4 linked regions of the Homo sapiens genome follow. The protein of the gene in region 4 interacts with the protein of the main gene of each other region in a biochemical or structural test. Each region holds a gene or a part of one and is shown on either strand. Other genes may lie near its edges.

Evidence for each region.
Region 1: of the proteins of TRIM65 (region 4) and TNRC6A, one has a biochemical effect on the other in vitro, tested with the Homo sapiens proteins (one study listed by BioGRID).
Region 2: the proteins of TRIM65 (region 4) and BTG3 form a complex in vitro, tested with the Homo sapiens proteins (one study listed by BioGRID).
Region 3: the proteins of TRIM65 (region 4) and TBX19 form a complex in vitro, tested with the Homo sapiens proteins (one study listed by BioGRID).

Annotation. Positions count from the first base shown.
Region 1 is NC_000016.10:24,788,635-24,795,674, reverse strand, and holds part of TNRC6A (trinucleotide repeat-containing gene 6A protein), read right to left. Parts: intron 6,444-7,040; coding exon 3,858-6,443; intron 2,203-3,857; coding exon 2,026-2,202; intron 1,132-2,025; coding exon 956-1,131; intron 1-955.
Region 2 is NC_000021.9:17,609,874-17,617,497, forward strand, and holds the start of BTG3 (protein BTG3), read right to left. Parts: upstream 3,029-7,624; 5' UTR 2,826-3,028; exon of another isoform or gene 1,806-2,825; coding exon of another isoform or gene 1,784-1,805; exon of another isoform or gene 928-1,783; coding exon of another isoform or gene 903-927; intron 1-902. UniProt on the Homo sapiens protein: Overexpression impairs serum-induced cell cycle progression from the G0/G1 to S phase.
Region 3 is NC_000001.11:168,311,861-168,314,950, reverse strand, and holds the end of TBX19 (T-box transcription factor TBX19), read right to left. Parts: intron 2,244-3,090; coding exon 1,949-2,243; 3' UTR 525-1,948; downstream 1-524. UniProt on the Homo sapiens protein: Transcriptional regulator involved in developmental processes. Can activate POMC gene expression and repress the alpha glycoprotein subunit and thyroid-stimulating hormone beta promoters.
Region 4 is NC_000017.11:75,888,423-75,893,951, forward strand, and holds the end of TRIM65 (E3 ubiquitin-protein ligase TRIM65), read right to left. Parts: intron 4,429-5,529; coding exon 4,333-4,428; intron 4,118-4,332; coding exon of another isoform or gene 4,079-4,117; coding exon 3,845-4,078; intron 3,764-3,844; coding exon 3,589-3,763; coding exon of another isoform or gene 3,457-3,588; coding exon 3,391-3,456; intron 2,926-3,390; coding exon 2,357-2,925; 3' UTR 541-2,356; downstream 1-540. UniProt on the Homo sapiens protein: E3 ubiquitin ligase that plays a role in several processes including innate immnity, autophagy or inflammation.

The sequences.
Region 1 (7,040 bases), on a different chromosome or scaffold from region 4:
GGCAATAGGCAAATTCAGCCAAATGAAAAATTTTAAAAATGAAAATGGCAGGTCCTAGACTTAGAATCCCAGGATTAAAAGTGAGGAACCTTGGCAGTTACCTAGTCCAGCTATCCACTGGTATCTGACTTCTAAGGTCCCTCAAAAGGTAATCATTCTCAAGTAGGGTGGGTTAGGATGTTATGTTAGAACCACCTGGGGGACTGGGCACATATTTTGAAAATGGTCCCCAGGAGGATCTGACAGCAGCCCCCAGTGCCACCTCTTAAGAACCAGTGCTCTAAATCAGTGCTTCCCAAACCTGGCTCTGCATCAGAGACATTTGAGGAGTTTCTTTAGGATAAGAAACTTGGTCCAATTTCCAAAACTTCAGTAGACCTGAGGTACAGGAAGCTGCATTTTTAACAAATGCCATGGGATTTCGATGTACAGCCAGCTTTAGGAATATGATTTGTCCACACATAAAAGCAAAACCAAGCTCAGATCATTCCTAGGGATTTTTGTCACAGGACCTTTTGGGATGGGATAGGGACAAACATGACAGGTGAATAAGGAGGATGGTGACTCTGGGTAAGCGGGTGGCGGGGGACTCCAGGTGAGGAAATGAAATGGGAGATGAACTGGCAGTGGGATGGAAAGAGTCAACATGGAGATTTGCCCTCCTCTTCATCCTCACCACTGCAGGCACCACCCTAGGATGAGGGGTTGTCCCAGGCAGCACTGGTGGAGGGGGAGGAAGAGAGAAATCCCAAGCTGTAGCAGTGGGGAGAAAGGAAGTTCCTGTGGTCTTTCTTATGTTTCTCTAGGTGGCTGCCCATACAAGTGGCTATACCTAAGGTGGGGGCTGCCTGGACTGTACTGACCGCCAGAAATGGGCAGGCGAAAAGTTAATTTTCTGTGGGTAAACTACCTTTGGAATTTAAAGTTTCAAGGGCTTTGCCCTTGAAATGTTTACCTTCGATGACATTTTCTTTGTATATGGTGGCCAATTTAAAGATGAGTTAAGCTCTTGAGATGAATTACTATTCCACATTCCAATCTCCACATCCTCTTCCTCTTCCCAGCCAGTGGGGCGATTTCCAGGCAATGGCATATCATCACCACACCAGCCATCTTGCATAGATTTTGGCCCTGATTGTGGATTTGTGATATAAAGAGAAACATACTTTAATAAAAGAATTCCTTCTGGAGAATAAGTATATATTAAAAATTGGGTAGAGAACCTAAGAAAACACACACGTGCACACTTATTTCCCTTCCTGCATCTGCACAGAAGGAAAGTATGTTTTATACTGAGCTAAACCTTCCATGAAAAATAATATATTCTTATTTAAAAATTTAATAAAACTCCTCCATGCCTTTAACAAATCATAGTTCTTGAACATGGACAATGGTAGCACTCTTGTTTGTACCCACTTAATAATCTGCATAGTGATGCACAGGACAAAGAAGATGAATGAAATTTGAAAGAATTAATTTTTATATATATTTTTAGGGAGAATGGCCAGAGAGTATTCAAAGCCTTAAGCAGAAAGCATCTTATCTTCACACATGGCCCTTGGGATTCCTACCGGGCATCTTGTACACAGCCTATGGGATAATGACAATGTTAATTTCAATCTTGGGTCTTTTCTGAACTATGCTAATTGTAACTTTCAGGGAATCATCTGACAGTCTGAATATGTGTCCTCATGGCTACACTAGTTGGCCTCTCAGGCTGGATGGCATGAAAGTTGCTAGTAGACTCTTCCTAGATAACCTAATTTGGTAAAATATAATTTAGATTTGATGAAGTATATGCAAATGAATAGTTACAGTTCTAAGAAATATGAGAAAAGAGGAAAATTCAGAAAGAGAATAAACCACGTTACAAAATCAAAGAGCAAAATACTGAACATCATCTATCATGTTACATTATATGAATATATTATAAATAACATAGAAACCTTATCTAATTATTTAATTATAGTCAGTGAGTGTTCGCCACTGCTACATAACAGCTACCAGGCATTGTCAATAACTTACCAGATTTGCTTAATGCTTGTGGACCAACAGAGCTGGAGCCCCACGTGGATGTGCTGGATGCCGCAGCAATGGGTTCCCCCCAGCTGGGACCACTGTCTATGGGCTTACCCCATGCTGAAGTACCATTATCCACAGTTGTGGCTGGAGTAGAAGGCTCCCCCCAGGGCTCACCCCAGCCTTTAGAAAGTGTGGGAAAAGAAGTCATCAGCATAGAAGGTAAGGAGGTGCAGTGGAATAAGGGACAATAAAGAAAACTTAGGGACCAAGGATGAAGAACTTCATGTTTATGTACTGAATAATGATACTGTGATAGGCAAAAAGATGGCATCTGTTTTATGTTAAAAAAAGACAAACTATTTCCCATTAATATAAGGTGAGAATTTTTTTAACTTTTTTCATAATTACCCTCTAGACCTAGAGCTGATTTTTGCATAGTTATGGAAAACCACTCTCCTTTGAGCATCAGTTTAATTCCTGAAAAAGTCAAGTCATTCTAAACCAAACCTTGTAAATTGGAGCAGGTGATAAGCTGGGTGACAGTGTATGTATAACATCTGTACCAGCTGGGTACAGTGGCTGATGCCTGTAATCCCAGCACTTTGGGAGGCTGAGGCAGGTGGATCACCTGAGGTCAGGATTTTGAGACCAGCCTGGGCAACATGGCAAAACCTGGTCTCTACTAAAAATACAAAGATTAGCTGGGCGTGGTGGCACACACCTGTAGTCCCAGCTACTCAGGAGGCTGAGACAGGAGAATTGCTTGAACCTGGGAGGTGGAGGCTGCAGTGAACCGAGATCATGCCACTGCACTTCAGCCTGGGTGACGGAGAAAGCCTCCATCTCCAAAAAAAAAAAAAAAAAAAATTGTGCCACAAGTGTACCCCTTCCACACCACCTACACTGGAAAAACAATTTACTACCCAGCTAACAATAATGGGTCACCTACTTTTTACATATGCTGAACAATGCTTATTTTAAAATCTGAAGTATTAGGCTGAGGTTGTCCAAAGCAAAAAAAAAAAAAAAAAAAAAAAAAGCCATAAATGTTTCATTAAAAAAAATCAAAGCCAACAGGCTTCATCTTAGATACATACTTCTTCCTTTTAAGAATCAAACCTAAATTAATACAACAAACTATACTTAGACTAAAAAAAAAAAATTCAGTGCCAAAAAGTTAGCTCATGAAAGCACTCCCATATCCACTTCCAATGAGACTATTAAGTCAATAAAACTTTTATTAACAAAGACAATGTAGCCAATCACACTTAACAAAAATGTTGTTGGGAAAATTTGCAGAGATAGGAATTAGTTCATTATTAGAGAGGAAAGTAAGGATATACTAGAAAGGTATTGTCAAATGTTTTAAATACACAAACATATATACTGTATCTAAGTAGAGTTGGATTTCTCACCTACTTAAAAAAAAAAATCCCTTCTAAAGCCAAATATACAACCTAATGTTTAGAGAGTACTGTATTTATGAGATACTTGTTTTATTTCTGGAGATATTTTAGTCAAATAATAAAACCACAAGTTAAGGCCTAACTCAAAAACAACTTGGAGAAGTGTACAGCATTCCCACTTGACCGCCTTTGTCCAATTCGCCTTCTCTTGCATTTCTAATAGAGAATGAAGTGTGCAGGACTCAAACAACACTGCCAAAAGTGGAGTTCTGTTCTCTGGTGGTAAACATCACCCCTATAATTTTTTTCAAGCTGCTTCTGGATTACAGTAAGAACAGCCTTTGTGTGCATATCCAAGTACTTTGTTATACAAATCTTATAATAACAGTAAGTTAAAACAAGGCTTGATTTCATAAAATAGAAACTTACCAGAGCCACTGCTTGCCTCTTTGTTTGAGATGGCACTTGCAGGCGTTAGCAGCTGATGTACCTGTGCTTGCTGGTCTGAACGGCTGTTGCCATTTGGGACGTTTTTGTTCCACATGTTCACATTTTTGTAGTTGTATTTGCTTGGATCTCCCCAAGCTGAAGTTCCATCATCAATCTCCATTTTGCGACGTATAGATTCTGGGGATGGTTCCTCCCAGCCTGTGGGTTCTTCTTCTTTTGCTGGGGCTGGTATAGGTCCCCCCAGCCAGCCTGTACCAGGAGGTTTGCCTGTAGCTGGTGGGATTCCCCAAGATCCAACAATGTCTTGTTGCTTGTTCCAGTCTGGAGAGCTGACTGGCTTTGACGAATCTCCCCAACCTAGAGACTGATTAGACTTTGGAGGGTCTCCCCATCCCTGGGAAGGAGTAGGTTTAGAAGATTCATCCCATCCTGATGAATTATTTGGATTTATGTTGTTTCCCCAAGTGAAAGAACTAGTTTTACCAAGTTCGTTCCAACCGGAAACGGACCTGTCACTGTCACTACCTCCTGAGCTGGATTTCTTATTGGCCTCACCCCAATGGTTATTCCTTGAAGTTTCTCCCCAGTTATCACTGGCAGAAACAGACCACCCTTGGCTTGATTTTTGTCCATCACCCCATCCCTGTTTATTCTTTTGCGAGTCATTCCATGCAGCCTTCTCCTCTTTGCAATTCCCCCACTGATTGCTCTTGACCATTCCTGTAGCAGCAGAATCATCTTCCCACCCCCCCTGGCAGTTTGAGCCTTTGGAATCTCCCCACCTCAGAGCAGGTTTGGGATCGCCCCACCCTGATACAGATGAGGTATCATTACCATTAGGGCTAGTCTTATCTATACATGCCCCTGAGTTAAAAGTCTGTGTTGCAGAGCTTCCCCAGGCCTCTGTCCCATTGTCAGTCTTTCGTTCCCCTCTAGGTGATGTTTCTGTATCCCAGGCAGTATTCTGCTTAATAGGAGTCTGTCCCCAACCAGAGTTGGACAGGACACGTGGATCTAAGTCAGTTCTGTTTACAATGCTTTGGAGTAATGTGTGCTGATCAATTTTTCTTCTGTCTCTACTCTGACTTTCCCCAGTTCCTTTTTCCTCAAGGCGTCCAGTGCTTTCTGTACTACCATCGCTCTCCACTGTACCTCCTGTTTTGGCCCACACACTGCTTTGCTCATTTGTCTGAGATGTGGCAGAACCCTGATCCTCTTCCTCAGTAGATTTCCATCCATTTGTAAACGTCTTACCATTGCCATTTGCACTATCATTGGAATGCTGATTGCTAGGCAGTTTGTTCCACTCAACGCTGGGTAAATTAGTGCCAGTGTTTTGTGCAGGGGTTCCCCATCCTCTTCGACTTCCTCCAGAATTTGCGCCATTTCCACTTCCCCATGATGTACTCTGGGAGTTTGCTGCACCAGATTCCCACACACCACCTCCTTTGTTTGTGTTAACTTGAAAGTTAGTGCCCATAGGACCATTTACGCCAGGCTGCATTAGAGTTGCATTCACAGTGTCACCATTAGCTTGGCCATTAGGGCCTGAACATTTGTCTCCAGAGTAATTAGAACCATAGGCACCCCATGTAGTACCATAAGAGCCTCCACTTTTTGACTCTCCATTGCTAAGGTGAGAAAGGGAAGTGCCATTCATACCTGATGGAGCCTGCATCTGAGGATGATTCATTGTGCTCACACGCCAGGCCCCTGTGTTACTACTAGGCAGCTCATTATTCTGCACTGAACCGGAGTTTGGTAAACTAGAGGTCATAAAGTTAGTAGTGTTATTTGGTCCAGTCATTTCAGTGGTAATATTTTGAGGTTGACCACTGAATGAAACCTTCTGTGTACCACTTACTTCAGATTCACAAGTTTCCTGAAGGCTTCCCCAGGTACCATGGGTAGAACCACCACTCACTTTAGAGTTAATACTCTGATTGTTAGGCATCTGGCCTATAGTACTGCACTGAATATTAATGCCAGAACTACCACTCCCTACAGGCCCTTTTAGGGCAAGTCCATTGTTCTCTAATACTGGCCAGGCACCATGGTTGCTAGCTGAATTCAAAGTGCTTGGATTTAACCCTCCATTTGATGAAGAACTTACAGTGCCCCAAGCATTCATTCTATTGTTGCTACTTTCAGATTTGCTTTCAGGAGCATCCACAGAGACCTGACATGTGCTTATTATGGCTCCATGGGAAAAACCCCATGGCCCAGTACTACTTCCATGGCCCACATTATTGCTGCTGCTACCAACTACAAACTTGTTTTGGGAACCAAGTCCAGTGCTATTCCGAAGGCCATCTTTTTCACCACCTGTGTTCCCTGAAGCCATGATAGTGATGTTTCTCTCTGATTCAGAACTGGAGGCAGAATCAGCATCCATACATTCTGAAGCCAACTCCGGATCACTGCCAGGGGCTGAGGGCCATGCTTCTTTTTCCGACAAGTCACTTACAACAGCATTCTTACAGTTTGTGCTAGAATCACTTGTAGAAGACACAGGTCCCCGCTGGGAATTTTCATAATGGGATCCTGAAGTACTGTGGTTTATATCTAGGATAAAGGAGAAGTACAACTATTTATAAAGTGTTAGGCCATTTCAAAATGATACTAAAATCTAAGAAAAATGACGAATATGTTATAAATATATGTGGCTCCTCAATTTAACAAGCTATGATCCTTGGCAGAATGGTGACAAGGGCACTGGTTATCTTCTAGCCACCAACTTTCTATGTTCAACTGATACTATCCTAAGATCCTAGAGGACATAACAGCCCCTTGATAAATACTTGCTGAATGAATACATTGTTAACATATCGGTAAATAAAAGAATTTTGGGCCGGGCGTGGTGGCTCACGCTTGTAATCCCAGCACTCTGGAAGGCCGAGGTGGGTGGATCACGAGGTCAGGAGATCAAGAACATCCTGGCTAACATGGTGAAACCCCATCTCTACCAAAAATACAAAAAATTAGCCGGGCATGGTGGTGGGCGCCTGTAGTCCCAGCTACTCGGGAGGCTGAGGCAGGAGAATGGCATGAACCCGGGAGGCGGAGCTTGCAGTGAGCGGAGATAGTGCCACTGCACTCCAGCCTGGGTGACAGAGCGAGACTCCGTCTCAAAAAAAAAAAAAAAAAAGAATTTTGGAGTCA
Region 2 (7,624 bases), on a different chromosome or scaffold from region 4:
CACAGAAATGCCCACAGCAGTATTCATAATAGCTAAAAAGTAAAAACAATCTATATGTTTACCAATTAAGGAATGGACAAATACTGTGGTATATACATGTAATGGAATATTATTCAGCAGTTAAAACGAATGAGTACTAATATAAGCTACAACATGGGTGAACCTTGAATACATCACACTAAGGGAAAGAAGCCAGTCACAAATGACCACATATTGTACGATTCCATTGATATGAAATATCCAGAATAAGCAAATCTATATAGACAGAAGACAGATTAGTGGCCTACGGGGAAGTGGGAAACCAAGAAAAGGAGCATTGCTAATAAGTACAGGGTTACTTTTTGAGGTGATAAAAATATTTACTAAATTTCACTATAGTAATGGTTGTACAACTTTGTGAATATACTAAAACCATTGAACTGTACATTTTAAATGGGTGAATTGCATGGTATATAAATTAAATCCCAAAACTGTTCTACATAAAAAATTTCAGCATTGACTTTCCGAAAGTACTCTTTCAGGAAGAGAGATACATTTATCCACAAGTTAAGAGACACAAAAACTAGTGGATCTATCAGGACATATTTAAGAAATGGAAATTCAGGTCACCCGCAGAAAAACAAACTAAAAGAAATAATCAGAGATTTAGCTACATTTTGGATTGCCTCAAAGGACTTTAAAAATGGTATATCTGATTTATCATTGATTAATCCTTAAGGGCAAACCCTTGTCCTAAGATTGTTTTGATGTATGTTGTCTCTACTCAGTGAGCTCATTCATCTGGCTGCTGTAACCTGGAGTTATTAAGATGCTGCCTTTAGTAAGCAACATCACCTTTTTGGGAGCCAATTACGTATTAAAAACATACAGCCTCTGCTATGTTTAGCATAAAAACAACTAACCTAGCAGTAGTTTGTGTTCCCACATTTCCAAAAAAATAAAGCTGATTGTTAGCTTTCTTTTCTCAAACTGCTCTTTCAGTCTCTCTTCAGAATATGACTCCTTTATTCCAAGTGCAAATTCAAACAAGGAACCTCACTGTGAAATAAATTCTACACAGTTATCTGAGAGGTGTGCTGGCAGCCGCAGATAGCCTGATGGAGGGGAAGGCACACAAATCTTCCTCCCAGAACCCTAGAATGAGAAATTCACCTTCTACAGCCAGCTAGCAGGCACCGGGCATGGGTCCACACACGAGTGTACACGTATACATAACCCCAGCCCACCACGACTGCTGTGCAGCCTCCTCCTGAAAAATGTAAGCCATTTCCACTTTGTAAAGCTACGTTTATATTCCACCACGATACGATGGAAAAGAAAACCCAAGGCAATTTAATATACGGGTTGGGAAGAAAGTTTTGCTGATGGAACTACATTAGCCTCCACTCCAGCAAAGCAAACAAGGAACCACACTAAAGAAATGTACTGAATCTTTTAACTAGATCTTTCTCCTCATTCATTACATTTGCCAACTATGTGCCACATATCTGAGTTCTGGATTTGTTTCTGTTTGCTCTGCTTCATATAAAAAAATAGAAAAGAAGGAAAGAACCACTTAGTGGTTGCTTTTGGTTGTAACACAAGATGACTCATTTGGACTTTTGTTTTCCCCGTTTGAAGAAATGATAGCTCGAACAGCTGAAAAATAAGCCCACTCCCACCAGTATTCTAGGAGTACCAAAAGGTGAAAGAGGGAGAGTTACAGTCAGGGCAAGAACCACCAGAGGCAAGCAGGGCCAAGAAGACCTCAGGCGTCTTGAGTAAGTAGGCGTCCTCCACCCACACTCAGAGCAAAAGGCTCCCATTTTAAATATCGCACGGTGACGTCATCCTGGGACCTCGTCACCGCGGCGGCTGCTCCTCAAGTTCTACTTTGTTCCACAAGGCTCCTCTGCTCACGGCTGCGTGGATAAAACCCAAAGGGAATCCAGAATCAAGCTCGGCCTCGCAGGAGTTTATAACTTTTGTACTTTTCCCTCCCTTGTAACGAAAAGCTAATCGCAAACGTTTCTAGGAACACATTTTTCTCCTGATAGACGTTCCCAAGGTGGAGGGCGCGAGAAGACTGGCCCGTGGGGTGAGGAGCCCCGGCCCGACCTCAGCGGCGCCACAAAGCCATGAAGAGGGGAAATAATTTTCCAAGGGGCTAAGAGTTGGACTTTCTGAAGCCATCGAAACCTGCTGCTAGGCTCTCCCGCTGGGGTTTTGAGAGAGGTAGGTGAGGAGGGATCAAACATCTCCACCCGCTCTTGAAAGAACCGCCTTGAGCTGCGCCCAACTTCTGCAATCCCGGTTTTCCCCAAGTTCAAGGGGAAGGGCCCTGGCGCCCAATGCCCAGCCTCCCCGACAACATCCTCGCCAGGGTGCGCCTGCCCCGCGGGTCCGCTGTCCCCGGCGGGCGGCCCTGGGTTCGAGGACCCGGCTTCCCGGAGGCGCGACTCTCCAGCAAACAAGCGGAGCTCCAGAAAAAACACCGACGCGAAGGGGGTGGACAGAGGGTGGGAAGCCGCGGGGTTGTCGCCCACCCGGAGGCGGAATGTAACGCGCTGTGGGAAACGTGGCAGGAGCCCTGAGGCGGCGTCTTTTTCCTCAGGCGCCCGCCGAGGGTCCCGCGGAAAGCCTCGCGGGCCGCCCTCGCGGCCCGCAGCCCCGCTCTGGCGCCGAGCCGGAGCCCATGCAACCTGGTTCCATCCCCTGCCCCTCCCCTGTCCCCGGTGCGCCGCCCGCCAGCGAGCCTTCGACGTGGCCGCAGGGGCGACGGGACCACCCTCCCCCGATACCCACAGCCCCGCCATGTCTGCCTTTCCCCGGCCCGGTCTCCTCACCGCCGCTGCCGCCGCCGCTCTTCGGCCGGAGATTCGGCGGCCCAGACCGTGTCCTGGCCGGGAACTGAGGGCTCCGCCTCAACGGGCCCGCGCTGGGCAACAGGGAGCGCAGCGAGCCTCGTCCGGCGCGTGCGGCTCCCGCGTCGTCGGGCGGCCAAGCGCGCGTTGAGAGGACTGGCGGGCGGACGAGCGCGCACACGAGTGAGCGCAGCCCCAAAGCGGCGCGCAGGGGGCTCGCGGCCCGGAAGAGGGGAGGGGCGATGACCCGGGAAAGGGTTGGCGCGCGCGGGATCGGCTCGCGCGCCTGAGGGGCGGTGCCGGGGGCGGGGCTTCGCCGCGAGGCCACCCCCGAGCCCCGGGCCTAGCCGCACGGGAGGCGACACACCCTCGCCCTACCCTGAGCCTGGCGCAGACCCTCGACCGCGACGGCGCGGTCCGCAGAACCGCGGGCTTCCCTCCCCGGCAAAAAGCGGCGCTGAAGGCCTGTGGGACCCCCGCCCGGCCGCCCTACGTGCGTCAGCGCCTTCGGGGGTCGCGCGGGCTTGGTCCTTTCGGCTGTCTCGGCCTTTTTGTTTCCCCCTCAGGTCTCTCCACGCTGCACTTGACACCCTCAGGGCGGAATGGCGAGTTCTAGACCCAGCTCTCTAGACCCGGGGCTTCATGGGGGACACGGACTCGACGGGAAGGGGAACTTGGCATTTATGGACAGATCCTCATCCTTCTTGCTGTAGTCAATTACACGCACGTTAACCGTGCAGCCGCCCTGCTGTATTTTAGGCGGTTGTTGGCACTCCTAGTTGGGCCCTTCCCTGGCCCCTCACAGCAGGGCCTGCCTCCTGTGGACGCTTGTGTGCTGCCCTGGCACCGGCCACTGTGTTTTGCATAAAGGAGAGGCTCCAAAGATGTTGGCCAAAGGAATGAAGCCTTGAGAGTCCAGGCTTTCTATTTCTGAGACACTCTACTCAAGGACTTCCCAGATGCAAAGCTTCATCTTTGAGCAAATACAAATATGGAGAGGGAACATTAACTTTCTGAAGAAAAGAAGGAACATCTTTTCAACCTTTTATATTGAGTTAACACCATGGTCTTAGTTTTGTGAAAGCACTTTAATACATCCAACTAGCGGGAGGAATACAAGATATTCCTACCTTTTTATTATTATTATTAAAAGAGGGCTAAACCATGTTGTAAACTACTTAAGAACTGAATGTTCAAGTTGTACAGTATATTGGCCAGATTCCTTACTGCCCACTAGGCTTGGGAGCATGTTTTCAGCTCAGTTTTATGAATGTTTTAAATTTGTATTACTGATCTTTGTTATAGCCAATTAGCAATTCAAAATGGTAATTTTTTTAGCAGTAATAAATATACCATCCCCCAAACAGTACAATAAACTTTATTTGTAAAAAAAAAAAATTATACTCTTCTAGGACTTAGTCTACTTACTGGTACATTTAAAGAGGATATTTACACCTTGGAGTCTTCTAGGAGGTGTGAAGGTGTTTTTATTTTAAAATCATAACAATCTGATGAGGTTATTTTTACAGATAAAGGCCTTTAATTCTGCAGTTTCATAAAATAGCTAGGTAACCACCCACATTACTCAAAATTTGTCCAGAAATTTCTATAGTTTAGGATTAGTATTTTGTGTAGTATTTATAAATCTGTGGTCCACATTTTCCAGTCTTAGAGCAGTACCATATTCAAAAAATACAGGCAAGAACCTGAAACCCAATTTCAAAATGACTTTTAAAAAATTCTCAGGCTGGGCACTGTAGCTCATGCCTGTAATCCAGTACTTTGGGAGGTCAAGGAGAGAGGATCATTTGACTCCAGGAGTTCAAGACCAACCTGGCCAACATCATGAAACCCAATCTCTACAAAAAATACACAAATTAGCCAGGTGTGGTTGCATGCAGCTGTAGTCTCAGATACTCTGAAGGCTGGGGTGAGAGGATCACCTGAGCCCAGGAAATTGAGGCTGCAGTGAGCTATGATAACATCATGGCACTCCAGCCTGGGTGACAGAGCAAGACTCTGTCTAAAAAAAGAAAAAAAAATTCTCATAGCTGAACACTGTGAAATAGACACATAGCAAACAATGTCTCTTAAACACTTTTTCTCTCATCCACTTCCCTTGCACACACAGTATTTGTTTTTATGTCTCTTTCAAAACTTGCCCTACTCTTGTGTGCTTCAGATGCTTTGCCCCAGCTCTCTTTCCTTGTGAGTTGGAATCACAAAATCACAAATGAATTGGTATGGCAAGGCAGAGCCCTCCTCTTTATGGGACTGAAAGAGGAGAGCTGCTATAAACTAAATGTTTGTGTCCCTCGCAATATTCGTATGTTGGAGACTAAATCCCCAATGTGATGGTATTTGGAGGTGGGGCCTTTGGGAGACACTTAGGTCATGAGGGTGGAACCTTCATGAATGGAATTAGTGCCCTTGTAAGTGGAAACATGAGAGAGATGATCACTCTGTCTGCTCTCTTGCCAAGTGAGGATATAGGGAGAAGACAGCAAACCAGAAAGCATACCTTCACCAGACACTGGATCTGCTGGTACCTTGATCTTTAACTTCCCTACCTCCAAACTGTGAGAAATTTCTGTTGTTTAAGCCACACAGTCTATAGTATTCTGTTATAGCATCCTGGAATAAGACAGGAGCAGAGCTGATGTAAATAATTACAGTAGTTCCCCCTTATCCACGGTAGGATATGTTCCAGGATCCCCAGTGGATGTCTGAAACTGCACATGGTACCAAACCCTATGTATAATTTATAAATTAGGAACAGTAAGAGATTAACAATAATTATAATAACAGAACAATTATTATAGTACACTGTAATAAAAGTTATGTGAATGTATGCTCGCTCTCTCTCAAAATATCTTATTGTACTGTACCACTGGTAACTAAAACTGGTGAAAATGAAACCAGGGATAAGAGGGAACTACTATACTCATTAATATGTATTTCCATTTCACAGCTAACTTTAAGATATTCACTTCTATTGTGTGTTAATGGTGTAGTTTGCTTTTAGCACAAGTGGTTTCTTATGAAAATGAGCCACTCTAATATGTCTAGGGCTTTATAATCACAGGAATCATCACACACATCCTGTGGTTGTGTCTCAGAGTTGCAGAGAATGCAACTTAGAATCAACAAAATCTGTGAAATAGCTTTCAAAATTAGGACTTATTTTCACTAAATATGTGAGTCTTTAAAATCCTTTGAACTCAAGAGTTCAGCATTAAAAGCAAAACAGTCGGCGGGTCGTGGTGGCTCACGCCTGTAATCCCAGAACTTTGGGAGGCTGAGGCAGGTGGATCACCTGAGGTCAGGAGTTTGAGACCAGCCTGGCCAACATGGTGAAACCCCATCTCTACTAAAAATACAAAAATTAGCCAGGTGTGGTGGCATGCTCCTGTAATCCCAGCTGCTCAGGAGGCTGAGGCAGGAGAATGGCTTGAACCTGGGAGGTGGAGGTTGCAGTGAACTGAGATCATCGTGCTCTGCACTCCAGCCTGAGCAACAGAGCAAGACACTATCTAAAAAAGAAAAGAAGGAAAAAAAAACAGTCTTGGGTACCATCTTCTCAATTCACTTGTCAAGTTTGAATCTGAATACAAAAGTCTTTTTTTTTTTTTTTTTTGAGACAGAGTCTTTCTCTGTTGCCCAGGCTGGAGTGCAGTGGTGCAATCTCGGCTCACTGCAAGCTCCGCCTGCCAGGTTCACGCCATTCTCCTGCCTCAGCCTCCTGAGTAGCTGGGACTACAGGTGCCCACCACCATGCACGGCTAATTTTTTGTGTTTTTAGTAGAGACAAGGTTTCACTGTGTTACCTAGGATGGTCTCGATCTCCTGACCTCATGATCTGCCAAAACAGTCACTTTTATAATGGACATGGAGGATTTTGTGTTATGTTAGTTGCATTAGCTATGTAGAGAAACTGGTATGTAACATAGAGGATGTTACGTTACATAGCATATGTTACATTATGCTATGTAACATCAAGGAAAAGTGTGTGCAGCCTTCTGGGGCCTTTGGAGGTCCAGCAAGTAAGATCTGAGACTATAATTTTAAGAACACTTCAACACATTTCTTCAAAAATTTCCAGAACTTAGCCATGTAACTAAATTAAAAAAGACTAAATCTACTTCTCTTGCATTAGCTTCTTAAATATCCATAAAGCAGCAGTGATTAAAGTATAAGCATAAAGAAAATTTGCAATCTTCATTATTTTCTCCGTTACATCATGCCATAAAACTGACTTCCAAAAGTCAAAACACAAACTCTCTTGATGAATGAGGCAATGGAAACTGGGCACACCAACCTCCTATTTTGAGTTGCATTAACTGTGGAAACTTTCCTCCCTACCTCAAAGAGGCCTCAAACTTGGCTCATCTTTTTCAGAAGAAAATGCTTTGATCAAACTTTTCATATTATTGTTTGGTAATTGGTTAGGATTTATGTGAACTAGGTTAGGGTGATGTATAAGTTATGACACTCAAGTGGGCCAGACACTCTATGCTTAGGTAGAACTTCATATTGGAAATCCCTGGAGTAAAATTTCCCAGCTTGGCAGGAGAGGTGCCATTATTGTTGTTGTTGTTGTTGTTGTTTGGCAATACTCTCCTATTCTCCATGCCAGCAGAGAAACTGACTTTTATTAGTGAGTAATGCATAAACTCCTATCTTTATTTTAGTATATGTGCTGCCGAAGCGAGCACAACTCCTATCTTTATTTTAGTGCAACAAAATTAAGAATATAATAAGAATATAGGTATTCCGGCATA
Region 3 (3,090 bases), on a different chromosome or scaffold from region 4:
GAGGAGGAAGACTCACGAAACTGATTCTGCTCACGGGTTATAGCAATGACCTTGGCTGGGGCAGAGGTAAAAACTCATCTGAAATAAGGTTCCTGGAGTATTTATCATCCTGTTTCTCTCTTCTAGGCAAGGAGTTTCCAAACCTAGCCCAGGGCCAATGCCTGGAGCTCTTGTTTGAAATGCAGATTCCTGAACGCCAGCCCCAAAGATTCTGATCCAACAGGTACGGGGTATACCCACGAATCTGTATGTCTAGCAAGGGTCCCCTGTTCCAGGTGATCCTGACTTAGGGGATCCAAGAACCAGTATTTGGGAATAACCACTCTAACACACCCTGTCTCCATATATGATTGTCATTCACTGACAATTGGTGGTGCCTCAGATGAGAAGCCCGTGTAACTAACAGCCAGCATGTTCCTAGGCTCCCACACGGATGCACCTATGTGTCATGGGGCATGTGTCTCTGAGATCTGCCCCCCAGCCACTTCACACCGTCCTTGTAGCACACATGCACATTACACCAATTCAGTTCAGCAAATGTTTATTGGGCACCTACAATAGGCAAGGCACAGTACCAGCTGCTGTGGGTTACAAAGACAAGAAGGCTAGGCCTCACCCTCGAGAGGCTTACAGTCTAATAGGGAGAGACACACTCACAGGTAACAAAAATACAAGGCAAAATGAGGTGAGCTCTATGGCAGAGGCAAAAACAACGGGAGAACAGCGAGCAGAGATAGATCAGACATATCTCAGCAGATCAGATGTTGGATGCAGGGAGTGACGTTTCAGCCAGGCTCTGGGAGGTGGGTCGGATTCGCACAGGTGAACTGGAAAAAAGAGGACACTAAGGCACAGGCAAGGTATAGAGGTGGGAAAGTGCAATGAATGTTCAGAGAACAGAGATGCCTGCCTTGACCAATACATAGGAGGCCAACAGGATAACAGAGGGACCTAAGCTGGGGAAGTGGTTTCAGGCCAGATGGTGTGATCGCTCGTAGTAGGATTTCTTTCTTTCTTTCTTTCTTTCTTTTTTTTCAAATGAAACAAAGCCTTGATCTACCACCCAGGCTGGAGTGCAATGCCACAATCATAATTCACTGCAGCCTCAACCTCCTGAGATCAAGCGATCCTCCTCTAAGTAGTTGGGACTATAGGCACAGGCCACCATGCCCAGCTAATTTTGTGTGCATGACTATTTTTTGTAGAGACAGGCTCTCACTTTGTTGCACAAGCTGGTCTCGAACTCCTGACCTCAAGCGATCCTCTTACCTTGGCCTCCAAAAGGGCTGAGATTATAGGCTTAAACTACCACACCCAGTTATAGTGAGGAGAATTGACTTCATTCCACTGGTAATGGTGAACCATTGAAGGTTTCTGAGCAGAGGAGTGACATGACTTCATTTCCACAAGTCTGGGCACACTGCTGTTTGTAATACATGATTAGCTTTATTCTTTTTGTTAACCTTACTCTATGGCTTACACCCCATCCTGGTCTCAAAGCAGAAGTGTGAACCTGAGCCCTGTGGCCACACATACTTTCCAGGCTTCACAAAGCAGGAAGCAGTGGCCTTAGCTAGGTAAACTCTGAGCTCATTTAACAGCTTTGCACCTTCTCCACAGAAAAGGAAGTGAGGCTTTCCAGAACGATTTGAGAATAAGAGGCAGGGCACAAGGATGGTACTTAACAAACTTCTGTCACCTAAGCATGGCAAGAATAAGCTGCAGAGAAAATGGGAGTGCAGAAGAAAATGGTGGAGAGATGCAAATGATCTAACTAGCATCATCCAAACTGAACCCTCTCCCAGTATGACTTCTGTAATAACCCACCTCCACCTCCAGCTAGTGGGAAGGGAGATTCCACAGTCTGACTCACTAGATCAGTTGATGGGGTTTCTAAGCACTCTACACATGGAAGGATCGCTGTGCAAAGAGGCTCCTAGGATCCTGCTTAACCATCCAGTGAGGAAGGAGAATGGTGCCCACCCGCTCCTGGGCCACCCCAGCCCGCGAAGGGATGCGAGGCCACTGCTGTCCAGGTGGACACAGCAATGCTGGTTAGCGAGGGCTCCCCCAGAACCTCCACACCAGCCGAAGTGGGTGCTTGGGTGGAGAGCACAGAAGGGGGTGAAGTCACAGCTGGGTTTCCGAGGAGAAATGCTCCTGGGGTGCTGGCGTGCACCTCCGGGCCTGGCCCACTGGGGCCTCCGGCACCATTGCTGATGGTCCACAGGCACGGGTAGGGGCTGCAGAGACAGAGAAAGAGGGGAAGGGAATGTTCACTGGCACTCCAAGGAAGGAGTGCCACCTGACAAGCATGTACACAGTGCTGAGAAGGGCATGGTTACAGGAGGGCTTCTGGCCATGGCTTTATTTCTAGCTATGACGCAGATTGGTCCTGTTTCTGCAGAAAAGCTAAGAGAAGCAGCAAAGTATGGTGGAATAATGATAAGATTAAGTATTCTGGTACTGGCCCGGCCACCAGCGAATTATTTGGTTTTAGACACAGAATTTCATTTATCTGGGCTCCCTTGCAGCCTATGTAAAATTGGCAGGGCAGTAGAAAAAAAGGTATTAAAACTGTATGATTTCTGCATATGATCTCTCCCTGGCCAATGTGGCATAATAACCAGGAAACATCACTGTCAGAAGACTTAAGTTTAAATCCCAGCTCTACCACTTAATTAGCTCTGTGGCCTTGGCTAGATTATTTAATATCTCTGAGTGTCAATTTCTCATCTTCAAGATGTGGATTCATAATTTTACCTACCTTACAGAGATTGCTACAAGGATTAAATAAGAGGAGTATATGGTCCTTAGCATGTAGTACTCAGTAAATGGTGGTTGTTAACATTAATTCTTCCATTCCTGGTCTCCGCCTGTGAGCTCTGGTGCCTGGCTGAAAGGCTGGGAGCTACAACATTTTCTTTGCCTTCTCTAGTTCTGTAGCACAGGTTCACACACTTGATTGCACATTCGGCACATTGGAATCACTAGGGGGGGTTTTTAAAGTAATATTGGTGCCTGGATCCCACTCTCACCCCACTCCCCTGCCCCAGAGATTCTGATTGAACTGATCTGGCATGCAGCCTG
Region 4 (5,529 bases):
AGAACCACCACCCAATAGGAAGATGAATTTCACATAATAAATGACCCCAAACACCTCCCACCTCAGAAGCAGAAAGGGGCCAACTCTTCCTCTCTCTGCCCCTTTCAGAGCGCGGCTCAGCCCGTTGGGTGCTTCTGCTGCAGCCTTGGATTAGGAGGGACTATGAGGTGGGGACAGCAATGACAGCCATCTGGCCAGGCCAATACATCCTGCCTGGCTGGGCTTTCAGCTCCCACCATTGCCCCTAGCTGGTCAGCAAGGTCCTGCCCGCCTCCTGGCTGTGGGGCTGCACATGTCAGATTCCCTTCCCATGTCTGGGGAGCTCCCACCTGAGGATCTTGCTGGAAAGTCCTTGCCTGGGCTGTGCCAATCCAAGGCCCTGCCCTGCTCTTGAACAAACAGCCACAGGCTAGGAGCAGGGCCACAAGATGGAGGCTGCAATGACGGCAGTGATCGGGGTGGGGTCGTCGTGGGAGGTTTTTTTTTTTTACAAATATAAAAACATTATATATATTGGGGGTATGTATATTACACGTATTATCCTTTTAAAAAGTTTTATTGTGAAATATTTATCCATGAGTACATATAACATAGATGTCCAGTTTTTCAAGTTACAAAAAGCAGACAGCCCTCCCTTTTTTTTTTTTTTTTTGAGACAGAGTCTCGCTCTGTCACCCAGGCTGTAGTCCAGTGGTGCAATCTCAGCTCACTGCAACCTCACCTCCTGGGTTCAAGCGATTCTTCTGCCTCAGCCTCCCCAGTAGCTGGGATTACAGGCGCACACCACCATGCCCGGCTAATTTTTGTATTTTTAGTAGAGACGGGGTTTTGCCTTGTTGGCCAGGCTGGTCTCGAACTCCTGACCTTGTGATCCGCCTGCCTCGGCCTCCCAAAGTGCTGGGATTACAAGCGTGAGCCACTGCGCCTGGCCAAAAGCAGACACCCTTGGAACCACCTCCCAGAACAAGAAGTGGAACATTTCAAGTAAAAAAAATTACACCTGCCCTATGACCCAGCAACCCCACTTCCGGAAATACAAGCAAAATCATGCCCAGGGGTCTTCGTGGCAGCTTGCTCTGCAATGGCAAACACCACACCAAACCAGGAGGAGCTAGCCTGTGCCGACACCTGCACACACGGCTGCCCCAAAGTCCCACACCCAGGGGTGGGATGCTGGAGATGAAGGTCCTGCCAGTGTCACGTGCTGCTTAGTGACAGGGTTGAGGGGCCTTAGTCGGCTTGACTCAAGGTGGCCTCACTGTGGCCTTTTGTATAAAAAAATCTTCAAGTGCTCATTGTTCCCTGAGTGACTCACTTGAGGTAACAGCCTACATACATGACCATAAATGTGGCCAAACATCCCACTCAGAAATATTCATCATAAGCCAGGCGTGGTGGCATACACCTGTAATCCCAGCTACTCAGGAGGCTGAGGTAGGAGAATCCCATGAGCCCATGACCGCACCCCTGCACACCAGCCTGGGTGACAGATGGAGATCCTGTCTCAAAAAAAACACATCAATGTTTGTATAGCTAAAAAGAAAGAAATTTAAATGTCCAATAATGGATAAATAAACTTGATAGTCATTAGAATGACTACAGCAATCAGTGAAAATTTTCAATCATGTGAAAAATGCTTATGTTAAGTCAGGAAACTTCAGAAAACACTGTAATCTGAGCTACTCTGGAGGCTGAGGTGGGAGGATCCTTTGAGCTCAGGAGCTCGAGGCTGCAGTGAGCCATGATTGTGCCACTGTACTCCAGCCTGAGTGACAGAGCAAGACCATCTCCTAAAAACACAAAAATGTTTAAATGCAGAAAACAAAATTGTTTGTAGAATACAATTATAAGGATGCACAAAATAAAAAGACTACAAGACAGGACGGACGTCTCTCCAAATGTTACAAAAAATTAAAGAGAGCTGCAGGCGGGGAGGAGGGAGGAATCTGTCTCCCCCTGGGACTACTCTGGCTCACCGCCCCTCCCTGACTGCTCCTTTGGCCCTTATCATCTCCAGAGGCAAGTTCAGGTAGATCTGAATTTTGTCACACACGCTGTCCTGTAAGCCCAGAAGTCCCCTGGGCACTGCTCTCGCCTCCCAGGCCCAGACAGTACCTAGAACTGGGTTCTCTCTGGGGCAAGGGCATCCCATTTATCCCCCTCCTAGACTGTGTCCCCTTCAAAAAGGCTGCAACAGTGAACTCTGCGTTTATGCTCACCTCCCCCAACCTCCCATCTCTTTCTGAGTTAACAGAGAGGCCAACAGCTGGTCCTCCAGTCCCCAAGCTGAAGCTGGGCAGCTCTTGGGCACATAGGCATGGTGGCAGCTATGCCAGGGCTCCATCCCATGCCTTCTTCAGCTGAGCACCTCTTCCTGGGGCCCCAGAGGGAACACAGCCCCTGGCTGATGGCACAGGGTCAGGGTCCTACCCTCGAGGAGCCAGAAGACGGGGGTGAGGGGCTGGTTGAAGAGGGCATGGAAGGTGTACAGGGGCTGGGTCTGGGGCTCCAGGCTGTAGAAGGTGAGGCAGCCTGAGGCCAGGTCCAAATCCATGCCCAGGAGCCGCCCTGACACCCCTGGGAGGCGCTGGGCTTCCCCGTTGTGCCAGGCCTGGAGGCTGTCCTCCTGGACGCAGAGCCCCCAGGAGCAGGGTCCCCGGCCAATGTTGTCTGTGTGGGGCCCCAGCCTGCACCGTGGCAGTTGCGGGTAGGAGACGCCCAGTGTCACCGAGTGGTCTGACGCGCGCACCTCCCAGTAGTGGTGCCCGGCCTGGAAGCTCTGGGCACATTGCACCTGCCAGAGCTCAAAGCTGCCGGGCCCGCCTGGGCCCCGGGACTGACGACAGTGCTTCACCTGCTGGTCCTGGCGCGACAGATAGAAGTGACGGTTGGCGCTGACTGGATCAAAGGTCAGATTGCGATAATCTGTTGGGGAAAGGAGGACAGCAGTGGGCTGGGGGAAGACAGCACAACCAGATCTCCATTTATCCGCTGCTAAACCTCCGCCAGGCACGCTGAGCACCGGCCGTCACCATAGCACTTAATCCTCGCCACGACCTCGCAGGCGGAATCCTCTATCAGCCCCGTTCACAGCTGAGAAAACTGGGGCTCTGAGAGCCATTAACTCAGTGTTAAGTGGAAGAATTACGGGTCTGTGCCCCAGACTCTGTCCTTCAACGCACACTGGCTGCGTCTGCTTCAGGGTGGATGTGCACGAGGTGTGCAGCGGGTGGGACCAGGCTCAGATGTCCCGGCAGGACAGTCAAAACAAGTGCCCCCCTCACTCACACGTGCATACGAACATGCACACACACACGTGCTCACAGCACACACAGGCACTTCCTTGCACACGCACACACAGGGGCACACATACACGAACGGCCTCCTTACTCTGCCAGAGTTTCCTCCTCAGTGGACAAACTGTGCTTGGGACCGGTGCCAGGGGACCTGGGGCCTCTAGGGGGCAAAGCAGTGTTAAGGGAATGGTTGGAGAGGTCACGATGTGTGGGCCCTGACCCGCCTCCACCCCCCCAGCGGGAGGGGCAGCTGGACCCAGGACAGCAGGGGGAGGCCTGGGGTCAGTCTTACCCACGGGGGCTAAGTCCACAGGCTTGGCTGGTGCCCCAGGGTGGCTCCCCTCTTCCAAGAGGAGGCCACACAGCCGGCTTAGCAACTGCTTCAGGTCACCCAGCTGTTGGTCTTCATCCCACTGCAGAGGGGTCAGTGGCCCAAGAGGCCCTGGGGGCTGGAGGAGCTGCGATTCCTGAGCCCCAGGGAGAACAAGTAAGCCTGGGCCTGAGGGGCAGGGAAGCAAGTCCGCCACCTATGCCCTGAGCCCTCGCACCTGCAGGAAGGTCTGCTCATCCACCTGCTCCAGGAGCTCCCGGATCCTGCAGCCATGGCGAGCCACAGCCTCCAAATGGACCCGCAGCCGCTGCTCCTCGTCTCGAGCCTGTGCCAGCGCCTGCGTCTTGGCCACCTCGATGCTCCTCAGTGCTGTCGTGTGCTGTATTTCCAGGGCCTGTAGCAGGCTGCTGAACTTGCCGGAGACCCAGGAGGCCAAGATGCAGGCCGAGTTCTGGGCGGGAACAGGAGGGGCTTCAGGGTGGCCAGGGCCCTGTGCCATACCAAGGGAGGCTAGGGCCAGGGCTGCCTGCTGGGCTGAGGGTCAGGGATGTGGGGAGGCAGGGTCCCGGGAACCTCCCCAGGACCCCTGTGCCCAGCTCCCTGCTCAGCCCCGCTCCCTGCTGCCTGGTGTTCCAGGGACCAGCTGGTGGCCGCCCCAGGATGCAGTGTGAGGCCATGGTGGGCGGGCAGGCACAGGCCTCGTACCTGGATCTGGCTGCTTTGCTTGCGCAGCTCTAGTAGCTGGCCTTCGGCCTGGGTGGCCTGCTGCTGGGTAACCTCCAGGCTGGCTCTCAGCTGGGCCTGTGGTGCGGGCCCACGGGACAAGCAACAAGAGAAGGCCAGGATTGGCTGTGATGTCCTTTCTCAGACAACCAACCATGCCTGCAGACACCAGGCAGCCCCTCCCCACGCCACCCCAGGCCAGCCTCCAGAGCACCGGCCTCGGTCTAACCCAGGGAGAGTTGGGGCCGTGCCCCGGGGGGGTCCAGACAAAGTCCTTCCTAATCTGCAGCAGGGTGGTGCCTGAGCAGAGCGGAAGCCTTGGGCTCAGGACCCAACTTCCATTCCCATTTCTACCTCTTGCATGCTGAGCAAGCTGAGGCCAAGCACCTGTCCTCTCTGGGCCTAACCCCCCACCCATCAATACAGGAAAGCGATAATGCTGGCTCAGGAGGCCTCGCAGGGAGGACCCCAAACACTAAAGCCGTTGGTCCCTGTCTCACTGCAGAGGGGTCAGTGGCCCAGGAGGCCCTGGGGCTTGAGAAGCTGACTGCAGGGACCTCCCAAAGCACCAAAGCTGTCTGACAAGTGGGCAGTTACTTGCTGGATAAACTAGATTCTTCTGGGGATCCGGCCAGTCCCTGGCCCTAGTTTTGAGACTGAGAGGGGAGGAAGGGACCCCTATTCGGTTGCGCTCCCTGAGTCCCTTGGGAATCAAAACACCGTGCTCTCATGAGAGCAGGACAAACCACGCAGGTCCCAGGGGCTCCATTCCCAGCACCTGGTCAAAAGCTTCACCACCTTGTTTCTGCTCCTCCCGCAATGCACTGAGATGGGGACCATTACTATCCCCACATCACAGAGGAGGAAACGGGCTCAGAGAAGTTGATAATTTGGTCAAAGTCCTCAGATCTTCCTAAGCCCAGAGCTCCTCCGGGCCCCCAGCCTCCAGCATTTCACACAGGAACACAGGAGGCCGGAGGGCAGGCTCTCCCAGGGCACCCAACCCTCCCCCAGGGACAGGCACCCCCATGTCCCTTTCCCTCTCTCTTGCAAAATCCTGGCTCCCCTGGTGCTACTGGCTGCCCCTGTCGCTCCCTTCCTCCACATGGCCCTCATCTACCGGCCTCCAACTCAAACTTCCGTGCCTAGCTCAGTCTTCTGCACCCGCCCATGAGCAGT